2 separate regions of the Homo sapiens genome follow, and region 2 is linked to region 1. Evidence: fine-mapped expression QTL. Tissue or cell type: nucleus accumbens. Region 1 holds a variant in brackets; the other region holds the start of a gene. All regions are shown on one strand. Distances are between the middles of the regions.

Region 1 (6,416 bases):
TTGTTTTATGGATCACATTTTATTACATTTTTATTCATTTAGTAGGTACTTTTTCCATACTGTTTGAATGCACAATTCCGTATTAGTTATACATCAAATTATGAAATAATTAAAAGTTTGATGTCCAGGCTCATAAAAGCGACAATGTATCTGGAGAGAAAAAACTATGTATGAAGAATGAATATAACATAAACTAGTCTGAGAAGATTGGCAGTATCAGTACATAAAATTGCTTATACACAAATGACAACTGTAAAATTAAGACAATAAACTACCAATAACATTGTTCATGGAAAGTTTAAAAGACTAAAAACCTTTCAAAAGCTAGAAAATATTGCATTGATTGCCATAAAGAAAAACTTCCTCACTTGGAAAAATAAATGAATATATTTTCATTGCAATTTAATTGATTAGCAACAATAGAAGTTTATTGACTCACAGAAATCTCCAAGAAAGAAGAGAAAGAACTGTTATGTATATTAACATTAATTTTATTTTTTCCTATTCCTTAAGTGTAAGAACTATGATCCCATCAAATATACTTACTCTGTCATGATATTTGAATTCTCAAATTCTCAAATTCTCAAAATAACTCATATTTTGATGCAAATATTTATAATTAGATAAATAGATGAATTAAAATAAGTATTTTATAGATCACCTATCATAGCAAATGGTATATGTCTTTAAGTTATTAAGGATGATTTGTCAATATATACTAAATGAAGTAAAATAAATTTGAATGAATTTTAGAACATCCTTCTAAAATTAATATGTTGGAACCTAATACCCAATGGTATAGTACTAAAGCGGGGGCGGGGGGGTCTTTGGGGAAGTGATGAGGTCATTAGGTTTCTCCCTAATAAATGTAAAAGAGTTTGAAGGGAACATCATCATGCCTTTTTGTGTGTCTGCCTTCCACCATGCGAGAAGGCAGCAACAAGGCACCATCTTGGAAGCAGAGGGAGAGATAAATATAATAAGTGAAGGAAGTATCAGTGACACCTATATAAACATTAACAATAGAATCTGCTAGTTAAGAAAATTGGGATTTCTGAGGGAACACCTGTAAAAAGCTATTTTCATCAGCTAAGAAAAATTATTTTCAAATTATTCCTTATTTACATTCATTTTATATTATTGTTTATGGCAGTAAGAATACATTATTAATGATTGCATACATCAATAGCACAATGGAAACTAGAGGTCAAAATTAGAACCCTAGCTGGGCGCAGTGGCTCACACCTGTAATCCCAGCATTTTGGGAGGCCAAAGCGGGTGGATCACCTGAGGTCGGGAATTTGAGACCAGCCCGATCCACATGGTGAAACCCCGTTTCCAATAAAAATACAAAAGTTGGCCAGGCGTGGTGGCCCATGCCTATAATTCCAGCTATTTGGGAGGCTGAGGCAGGAGAATTGCTTGAACTCAGGAGGCGAAGGTTGCAGTGAGCTAAGATGGCGCCACTGCACTCCAGCCTGGGTGACAGAGTGAGACTTCATCTAAAACAAACAAACAAACAAAAAAATCTAAATGAGACACTAGAGTGATTACTGAATCATCAAAAATAGAATTGGTTTCAGAATAGTTTTTGTATATAGTATGTACTGATTTCTAGAAATCATGTGAAAAATATAGAACATGATATTCATTCACCAAAAAACCTGAATCAATAAGCCCAATTAAATCCAGAAATTTAATTGGGAAAACTTAATTAAAAATTAATTTGAATTTTAGGAGCAATTTCCTTTAACAGGGGATCTGTTAAATAAATTATATGCTATAGCATTCAGCCATTAAAATAAATAATGGTAATAGCAATGAGAAACATTTATTGAGAGCTTACTTTGTGTAACACAGCTTGCTAAGTGTTTTAATTGCATTACCTCGACAATTACTTATCAGTAATATTAATATTAATTATTTTATTAATGATTTTATAATAATATAAAATCTATTAAAGATATTTCAATAAATAAAAATTAATAACAAATGTGATTTTGATTGAAGATTAGATAGCATTAAATAATTATTTTGCAGCAATATGATATGGATCATAAAACATCTTCATTCCATACCAGTGGATTCTGTGCTGTTCTGAATTGTATACAGAATAAATGTACTAAGACAATTTTGTTAATTATTTTAACTTTATATTCTAAAGAAATAATCAGTTGTGTATTCCTTTACTTATAACACAAGAAAATTATTATTTATAATAAACTCATAATAAGCATTAACTACATTATATACAAACTAAAGCTGAAAAGAGTGATTACATGTCTTTCATACTCCTCAGTTTTTCAGCTTCCAAATGTTTAAATCGTTCTAGCATATTTAGGATTCATTAGATCAGATGTTGATTCCTGTTATAAATAGAAACCATTTCAAAGTATAATCGTCATCACAGAGTAAGAATTTTGGAACTTGATTCTATATAGATTTCTGTACAGAATGGTATGACCTCAGCTGGGCTGGAAGAAAGTGTACATTTAAAGCCATGTTATATCTTTCCATATCATCCTTCTTTTATGTCCATGATTACCTCTATGAAATGTCCCTTTTGCCACCTAAGAGTTCCCAACAGTGTTATTCTAATCGGCCTCATCAGCAACGCTGAAGATATATAACATCTTACACTGACTGTAAGTAGCCAAACCACATTTGTAAGTTCAGAGACAACAAATCAATGCATGATAAATAATACTGTTCCACTTCTGACTAAAAAATAGGAAGTTAAAGTATTTCTCATTATTAACAAAAAACTGAAAATGTTCTGCCTTTGAAAATAGATGTTGTTTTTTTTCATGACAGAATGTAAGTTCATCTATAGAAGGCATTGAATACATTCTTAATAAAATGTTTTTTTCCAATAATCTAACAAGGCCCTTTAAAAAATAAATGTAAGAAAAACACTTTATTTATCTGTATTCTCTACAATAAGTATTTAAAGGGTTTAATAAATCTACAGTTATTTAGAGTAGTGAGCACATCAGGAGCTAAAAGAGACTGTTCCTATAACATGGTTCATGACAGATA[C/T]GCATCTGAAACCGCATTTTCAAAAATTAGAATTGAGAAAATTATGACAGTGAAAGAGATCAGACCTAACCAACTCCATCTTGCTTCTAAACTTTAAGCTGTCCTTATTCATTCCTGGGTGTAGGCCAAACTAACCTTGGGAAGGAATTTAGTTTATGGTTTGACTCTGAAACAAAACTGATCATAGCCCTTTCCCGAAAGAAAAAAAAAAAAAAATAGAACTCTTCTTGAATGGGGGCCAATGTGCCTTTGTAGGACTAACAATTTAGCTACAAGATTAGAAATTACAGTTTAGGGGCCATGCAGCCACTGGCTGCAAGAGTCTGAGTCTCTCCAAATTACTCTTGGGAGTAACATCACTGTTGTCATATCTAAGATCACTGCTTGAGATATTTTGCAGACGCTGCATTCCAGTGCACCAGCTGACACCACCAGATGGCTAATCTGGCTCAACAAGTTCTGTGATCCCACCCAGGAACAGAAAACAGCAAGAAAAACTCACTTTGACACTACTAGGATTCCATCTCCAACCAAGTTCCTACCCACTAAATTATCCTTAAAAACTCTGATCCCCAAATGCTCTGGAGACTGATTTGCGTAATGATAAAACTCCAGTCTCCCGCACAGCCAGCTCTGTGTGAATTACTCTCTCTCTATTGCAATCTCCCTGTCTTGATAAATTGGCTCTGTCTAGGCAGTGGGCAAGGTGAACCCATTGGGTGGTTACACATTTGAATAAATATGTTATAAGGTGCTGTGCATTTTCAGTGACACAGGAACAAACACAGAAAAAACTAGCAATTAATTATGATGGTGTCTCTATGTTGGTAGTTGGTAATGAGTAGGGAACAATGGGAAGAGTATAAATGAGAAAAAAAAATATGGATGAAATGTCATTTAAACTAAGTCTTGATAAATGAGTAGAACTGTAGCAAATCTGTTAATCACAAAAGCAATCCATGTTGACTGAACGTCATGGGTGAGGCCTTGAATACTCTATTAATGTATATAATTTAATTAGAGACTAGAGATTGAAGCATGTAAAGGTCAAGAAAGAAAATTAAATACTCAAATATTGGGTCTAGCTAAGGAGAATAATTTTTTTTTTTTTTTTTTTTTTTTTTTTTGAGAAGGAGAGAAGGAGTCTTGCTATTGCTGTCCAGGCTGGAGTGCAGTGGCGTGATCTCGGCTCACTGCAACCTCCACCTCCCTGGTTCAAGTGATTCTCCTGCCTCAGCCTCCCAAGTAGGTAGGATTACAGGTGCACACCACCATGCTGGGCTAATTTTTTACTTTTAGTAAAATGGGGTTTCGCCACCTTGACCAGGCTGGTCTTGAACTCCTGACCTCAGGTGATCTGCCCACCTCGGCCTCCCAAAGTGCTGGGATTACAGGCATGAGCCACCATGCCCAGACACTAAGGACAATCTTGAGTGCCAAAATAAGACATTCATAATTGATTGGATAAATAAAAAAGAGTAATATAGGAATACTGAGCAAGATACCTGGCCAGCAGAAGATGAGAAGTCTACTGGAATTTGCAAGAATGATCTTGAAAAATAATTTCAATAGTCTAATTAAGACAAAATGAAACCTTGAACTGAGGGTAACTTCTTTTTCTGAGACAGAGTCTCACTCTATATCTCTATCGCCCAGTCTAGAGGGCAGTGGCACAATTTCGGCACTGCAACCTCCACATCCTGGGTTCAAGCACTTCTCCTGTCTCAGCCTCCCAAGTAGCTGGGATTACAGGTGCTTGCCACCATTCCCAGCTAATTTTTGTATTTTTAGTAGACATGGGGTTTCGCCATGTTGACCAGGCTGGTCTTGAACTCCTGACCTCAGGTGATCTGCCCACCTCGGCCTCCCAAAGTGCTGGGATTACAGGCATGAGCCACCATGCCCGGCCACTAAGGACAATCTTGAGTGCCAAAATAAGACATTCATAATTGATTGGATAAATAAAAAAGAGTAATATAGGAATACTGAGCAAGATACCTGGCCAGCAGAAGACGAGAAGTCTACTGGAATTTGCAAGAAGGATCTTGAAAGATAATTTCAATAGTCTAATTAAGACAAAATGAAACCTTGAACTGAGGGTAACTTGTTTTGTTTTTCTGAGACAGAGTCTCACTCTATATCTCTATTGCCCAGTCTAGAGGCTTCAACCCCATGTGCTTACTTCCTAGCTCTGCTGTTTCACGTGGCTTGCTAGACAACTATCTCTTAGAACTCTGACTCCTGACTCCCAAATTGATCTTAGTATGTTTTCTAACATCACAGGAGAAAAGGGAGGGAAGGAGAGAGAAACCCAGAAAAGCAGAGGTAGATGAAGTGTGGAAAAGTAGATTACTCAGTAAAGGAAGGGTTATAGAGTATGGTGTGCCAGATATGAAATGAGGCTCAGTGGGCAAAGAAGTATATGATTTGCACCAGGGATTAAAACCCATTGAAAGTGCTACATGGTGTAAGGAGCTTAAATACAGATGCTGCTCAGTCAATGGCTTGTTTTTCATACCCCGTACACGTTGTGGGTTCCCTTCACTGTTTCCTTGGAGTTGTGAAATCCATGACTTTTTTTTTCCAAATAAAGCCTTTTATTTAATCAGGTGTTAATAATATGAGGAGAAGGAAAAGAAAAGTCTTTACTTTTCATTTTCTAATATAATTTTATCCTGAATAAAGTAAATAGATTCAAATAATCTTTGCTTAAAATTAGCTGAGACAACGCTGCACATGAATGATTTTACTGCTGATATTAATGTATTTCATCAAATTCCACCCACCACTGCACATGCATAGCATTCTGATTGTCACATCAATTTTCTGGATTAGAAATGTTTTTGGTGTGCTCTTAAAGAAAAAAGCTGGTTTAAATGTTGATTTTTTTTAACGGAAGCTTAGATGTACTGGAGTATTGACTTAATGGGGAAAAAAGCATCACTTGAAGCAAGACATGCAGTTTGTTCCATTCACCAATGCTCTGCCCACAGCTTAGATGTGACAATCCAATGAGACCCAAAGGCAATAACACTGCCTAAATTCAGGTTAAGGTACATGGGCTAGGAGATAACACCTTCTCCATTATCTTCTTCATAACCTGAATCTCAAAGGTCAGTTAATGATGGCAAACAGATCAAAAAAGAAAAAAAAGCAACAAAAACAAAACCAACAAAACAGTTTTATTGTCAACTTAAAAAATATAAGAGTTCCTGATAAGTAACAAAGAATCTGGATTTTAAAAAAGAAAGTGCATTTACCAATTTTTCTAATCTTTTTAAAGTTTTTCAATAGTTCTAAATTAAATCCCTTTCACCATTATCTCTTTATCCATCAGAAAATCCGAAGGGTATTTGGATTCAGACATCCAATGCACC
Region 2 (6,416 bases), 470 kb after region 1:
TGCAACTGACTTCAAAACAGCCAATCAGCATTTTACAATTATGATAATTCTTAACTTACTTGAACAGGCTATTGTATTTTACTTGTAGATAACTTAAAATACAACAATTATTTCAGTCCAAAAAATTCTTCCTAAGGGTCAGTGTTGACTGGTGCCTACAGGCAGCATGAGGAAGCTGTTTCTTGCCAGTTCTATGTCACTGAGATCAGCAAGAAGCTTTGACTTCCAGGATCCACACCACAGTCTAAGAAGATATTTAAGTGAAGTAACTGAGCCAGAAAACTAGCTGGAGGTCTCTCATTACTTATTCTTGCTTGTTATTTCAGAATTTTTAGTTGTAGCTATTTCTATTCATGCTTCAATATTAATATCATCATGAAAAAGGACTGGAGATTACAGTCTTTTTTTTACATTGTTGAGACTTTCAAAGGAACTGTTCGTGATTCCAGTGAAAGACTCACGTAATACCCCCAGAAATATAAAAATAAAATTCCTGTTGAAAATCAAGAAGAAACATTTCAGTAGACCAATACCACATCAATGAAAACAAAATCTATTTCAACAAATTATAAATAATTGATGCAGTATGCTTGCAGAGGACAGAGTTTATATCCCCTCAGATAGCAAGGAAATGAAATATTTTGTTTTTAACTTTTGTTACATCATCCAAAGCCTCAAAACTAACTTAACCAAATTCCACCTTAGCTAATACGTTCTGCATCACATGAAAACTCCCCCATGTCAAAAAGAGTATTACAATAACTATATTATCTAATCTGACATTACTAAAGATCCAGATAAGTTTACAACTTCTGATCTAGTTCAAACATAAAGTGACATTGAAAGAAAAGTTTTCCAAACTTTCTCTAGTAGAAAAGTTGAAATTCTAAAGAAATTGAGAGGAGGGACATATTCTTGCCAAAATATATCAGGTAATTGTTGAAAAAATACTTAAAAGTGTTATTAATGAGATGACTACTCCAATAATTTTTAAAAGGTTCTGTCTAAAACAGTTTACAACTCCAAGACCCTGAAAATCATAGTAATAATGAATTTACTCTTATAAGACATTTGTAAAGTTCTAACAGTTGGAAAAACTAGAAAGTTTGGAGAAACAAACATAATACTGAATGTTATAAATCATTAAACAATGCATATTGCTTTAATGTGTATAAATATAAAGTTAGTGCTTTTGTAGTATATCCAAGAAGAAAATCTAGAATATGTCTCTTTTTGGAGAAATGAGATGACTGGTCTGAACGATTTTTAGTAAGTAATTTTAAAACTAATGTTGAAAAGTTTCAAAACAAAGCACATATACTATTGTGTTGAGTATACGCATTCCTTAGGAAGAAAGGAAAACATATAAATCATATGAATAAAGAATATGAATATTAATAAACTTTGAAATAGTTTGTCAGTGACTTTTCTAACTTTATAACTTCAATAAATATTTCATGCAAGATACAATTTCAGTAATTGTATATTCAAATTTATTAACTAAGTAAAAAGAACATTTATTTTTGCACCTCATATGTGGCCACTGGGATTTCATTCATGTTGGATAAATACTATTCTTGATACCTTGTTTCCTTATCAGTCATAAAAGAAAGAGTATAGAGTTTATGTTTACTGAAAATATTCTTCCTTTTACAGACTGTAAAACTTCTCTTTTCTATTTTCATTCCCTTTCATCTTCTGAGTAATTTCGCATATTGACATATATTTCACATCAACATTTTCTTGCTTTTTTTTGGTGTACCCTAGGAGAGACTCTCAAATTAATTTTTTACATTCATGCCAGTTACTAACTTTCAAAAACTCCTAAAAAAAAGTCACTGTAGTAATAATTCATTCCTCCTTTAATTTTCACACCCTCAGTCAAATGAATATTTTACATACATTCCCCAAGGACTTAAACCTTTTGTAAGTGAAATTGGAAATGAAATAAGTCATGCACAAGAACAAGAATCACAAGTCTTCCAATGAATTATGTATTTTTAAATGCAAATGGTTCTATTTTCACAATACTTCACTGTTAAACATGTGCTCTGCTAGGAGCTGCTTTAATCTTATGCTACATATTTTATTGTATGTCAAAGTTAAAGCCATTAGCTATCCAAGGGTCAATCTAATGATGCCCAATTATCAGCAATTAAATAGTTCAGGTGTAGGAATTCAAATAGGAGCAGCTCTTATATAAAATACGGTTAATAGAAAGAACACCTCAGACACACATGGATAGAAAAATATATATATTAGATCGGGTAAATTTAAGCAAAAATGTCAAGGAAAGAAGACTTTATTATTAAATCTTCCTAGCTTTTAGCTTTGATCACAGACAACAATGTAATTTTACTTCCAAGTCATTGGGACCCTGAATGGGACAGCAGAATCAATCCAAGTTACAAGTGACTAATACTATGAGATGCTCTTATCAAAACAGAGCAGAGGAAAATTGTACAAGCCTCTTGATAATATTACTCCTATATCTCTATAGACATTCAACACATTATTAATATGTTTCTGTGATTACAGTTTTCCCAGCTATATCAACAACTCCGAGTGACCTCACCTGAAAGCTAATTTTATTTTGTAAAAACTGACAAGTGAAGATGGAGACCAGTTATAAAAACAAAGGTAATTTTGTAATTTTTATGTAAAGCAAACTCGAGACTCAATGATATCATACAGCATGTGAATTATCACCATCCTTGCATTTTCTCTTAGTCTTACAAATATTTCACATGTTCATGCTACCTATTGATGATATATGTATGTACACAAGATAACACCTTCTCAGTAAAGGCTAGAACAGCACATCTTTCTGACTGAGTAGATTACACCACATGGTAATGATGTGATCAAACTCCACAAGTTATGTGCCTCATCATTAGTTTCCCCAAACTATGAGGTTTAAAAAAAAAAAAAAAGCCACTAAACATATACACAGCACAGCACTGTAGCAAGAGAATAATTTTGGCTTATCCAAATGATAGTGAATAATTCAGTACATTTAGAAAAAAAAAATATATATATATATTATGAAATGCATCCCAGATCCCAGTTTAAGTTCAAGTTCCCAACTGTGAACTCAGAGCTCATGGAAATACAATTATGTAGATTCCTCTTAGCAAAGATTTAGTAGTGGTTCCTTCATTTAACAGCAGTTTTTTCTTAGTGAAATTATTTACTTGAAGAGAGGCTAATATGAAGGGAAAAAGGCAGTTCAACATAGACCAGGCACAATATAAAAAAAGTATTCATAGTTTAAAGTGTGTTAAAGTGTAATGATGTCACAAATAGACAAATCTTAACTGCGTCTTACCTGTAGTAGCAGAGTGTCTTGATACTGTTGAGTGTCGAAAAGATGCAAGTCTCTAAATTAGAAAACAAGGGGCTGTTTGCGCTCCCAGTTTCAGCACAGCCAGTGTTCTATGCGTAAGTAATAAATTGCCTCGTCAAAGTCGTCCCAGCCACGGTGTTCATAGGCAATAGTTAGAATCACTGCCCGAAGTCTTGCTTGATGCTGCTCCCACAGCCTCTGCCTTTGCACAGAGACCTAATGTAGGAGTGAGCCGGAGAACATCCTCTTCGCCCCCCTCTCTCCCCCTCCCTTTTGCGTGGTCTTTCTTCCTCTGTAGCTCACTCTCTCTCACGAATGGAGAGTTATCCTTTGGTTCATTCGGCAGTCAAAGAGGACAGGCTGGCAGGCAACAGTGCAGCTGCCCCCATGCTGAGGCACATGAATGTGTTGTGAATAAAGACAAAGCCCTGAACCAGTGCAGCACGTTACTCCCTGGAAAAGCGCTGCAATGATACTCTGCACTGCAACTCCTCAGGCAGGCAGGCAGGCAGGCAGGCAGGCAGAGCGGTGGACTGAATTTCCCTCGCTTTCCCTCCTAGGAACGTACATTATAAAGTTTGGCTCAGGACCTTGCTTCTCCTCTAAGGGACCACATTTTCTGTGGGTAAAAAATGTTTTATTAAATGTCTGGACACCCTGAACAAAACTATTTTAGATAGTTTTCTACTCTGCTAAACTTGGAGAACCTACCTCATTCCCAAGCTGTCGCCAAAGTAACTGAATTTTCTAACTTTGGAAGATAAAGATCAGGTATGTTAGGCCCCAGAAAAATGTTTTCATGGTAGGGGAAGATGAATTTCTCTAGTCTCAGTATTCCTGAGGGACTGAGTAGGGAGGGTTGGGGAGAGGTGAGCAAACAAACAAAAAGCATCCATATCTCACAGGTGCCAAAAATAGAAACTGAGATAAACTAAAGTGAAACTGATGAACGAGTCTGAAAGAAGGTAAGTGCAAAGAATTGAACAGAGTGAATTAATGGTACTCACTGGTTTCCTATAGCTATCATTCAGTTTTGATAACAAAAAATCATCCTACTTATATACATCATGTTTTGCTGTGGCTTTTGCAAGTATTAATAGACAAATAAACGTAGGCTAATATATACCACATATTTAAGAAAGATTTAGCAGATAATGGCCTACAGGTATTTGCATAAAGAGAGTCAGAAGTTGTTTTCATGCTAACAAAACTACAGGTGGTTACTAAACTATGGATACAGAACTTTGAGATGCACACTCTCAAATACTGGTCCTAATCAATGTATACTGTAACGATGAGACTTTTAAAGCACAATCATATAATGTAGGCAACAGTATTTGGTAAAATAATTAAGTATAAGTTAGGATGAGACTTTTCCATGAATGCCAAAACACCTGAAGTAAATAGTTGCTAGACTAAAATATAACTTTATTTCTATCCCTGATGAAAATGAAGTCTGCAGCTAAGTGTTCCAGGGCTAGATATGAGCTCCATGATATCAGGAACTAGGCTCCTTGTTGCTCCACCATTAGCAACACACTCCAAGATAGTATCTCAAGCTTTAGCCACTAAATTGGTATTCAAACTTCAGGAGCTGAGAAGAATGAGGACAATATGTTCCCTATTTAAGGACATACCTTGGAAGTTGAACATGACATGTTTTTGACTAGAAATTAACCATATGGCCAGAGCTTACTGCAAATGAGACTGGAAGACTGGAAAATAGAGTGTCTATGTGAAATGGCCATGTATATGGCTAAAAACCTGAAGAGCCTTTTACTTAAAAAGAAGAAAACAAGGGAATATGGGGGAAATAATAGTGTCTGCCATAGTAAGATTGATGGATATCGTAAGTGATATCACAGCATCCGTTTCACCTTTATTCCATTGCGAAGTACCGTGTAATTTAGGGAAATGATTTCATGTTGGGCAGCAGACCCTGTTGAGTCTAAGCCTATCATGGTAACAGCATCATACTTGGAAGTAATTGGTTAATAAACCCAGACCTGAACCAATTCGGGCATGATGTTCACTTGCTGATAGTCACTGGCTCAAGAACAGCATAGTTTCTTACACTGGCCCAGTGAAACGGAATGGAGGAAAAATTGTTCAGTGATGAATCAATGAGTTAGGGTCCAGTTTTAAGATGAATATGACAAATTGGAGACAAAGAAAGAAACTAGATATTTGAAGAAATCAATGTAGGTTTGGATTAAACAACTTTAGAGCCAACAGGAACTCAACTTCTAGTTATGCGCACCAATGTGTTACATCACTTTTTAAGTCACTTTGATATGCTTTTCTGTTAGTAACCAAAACATTCTTAATGTACATTAAAAAACACTGTTCTTTAGCATTTAGTATATAATTCCTTGTCCACAGTCCTAATATCACGTGTGAAACTCCACGGTTTGGCGATACGTATTTTTCTAAATTAAGAATAGGAAATATTAAGGGCATATTAAATTTCTACATATTCCAGATTTTCAAACTTTCAATTTATTTATTTAAAATGGTTCTAACAATTTAATTTTCATTGACATTCCATTGGGATTATTAGAAAGCCAATTTGTTGTTGAGCCAGGGACATATCACAAGCTCAACAGATTTAAATAGCTTCTTGTTTTTGTTACACTTATTACCTCTCAGGATCTAACTAGAATAATAAGCTATGCTGTATAGCTTTCTCTCACTTCAGTCTGTGATAATAAGTGTTGTATTTTAATAGCTAACATTTGCCCATGGGTGTGTTTACCCTATGCCCTATCCTCCTTTAAGTTTTTATAATGTATGAACTCATGTGATCTTCACAACAGCTTTATGAGGAGTATATTATTATTATAACCTCAATTCACTTATGAATTGAGAAATGGATTCACACATTGTCTTCGTCTATTTTGTCTTGCTATAAAAGAACATCTGAGACTGGGTAATTTATAAAGAAAGAGGTTTATTTAACTCAAGGTTCTGAAGGCTGAGAAGTTCAAGGGCATGACCCTGGCTTCCAGTGAGGGTTTTTGCACTGCCTCGCAATATGGTGAAGAAGGTCAAAGGGGACATAGACACATGC

What was found. PIP is the estimated chance that this variant, and not a neighbour inherited with it, causes the effect. A credible set is the group of variants that fine-mapping cannot tell apart.
Region 2: it holds the start of LINC03000, and the variant in region 1 is the best candidate, but not a certain one, in a credible set for the expression of LINC03000 in nucleus accumbens (GTEx, PIP 0.71).

Annotation. Positions count from the first base shown.
Region 1 is chr5:164,760,447-164,766,862 of GRCh38, reverse strand. All of the region lies in intron 3 of LINC03000 (long intergenic non-protein coding RNA 3000), which reads right to left. Among named protein-coding and RNA genes, the nearest start is that of LINC02143, 300 kb to the right of the region's middle. The variant C/T (reference allele first, on the strand shown) is at 3,040.
Region 2 is chr5:164,294,109-164,300,524 of GRCh38, reverse strand. LINC03000 (long intergenic non-protein coding RNA 3000) reads right to left here and starts at 3,820. Exons shown (of 5, transcript XR_001742489.2): 1 at 3,329-3,820.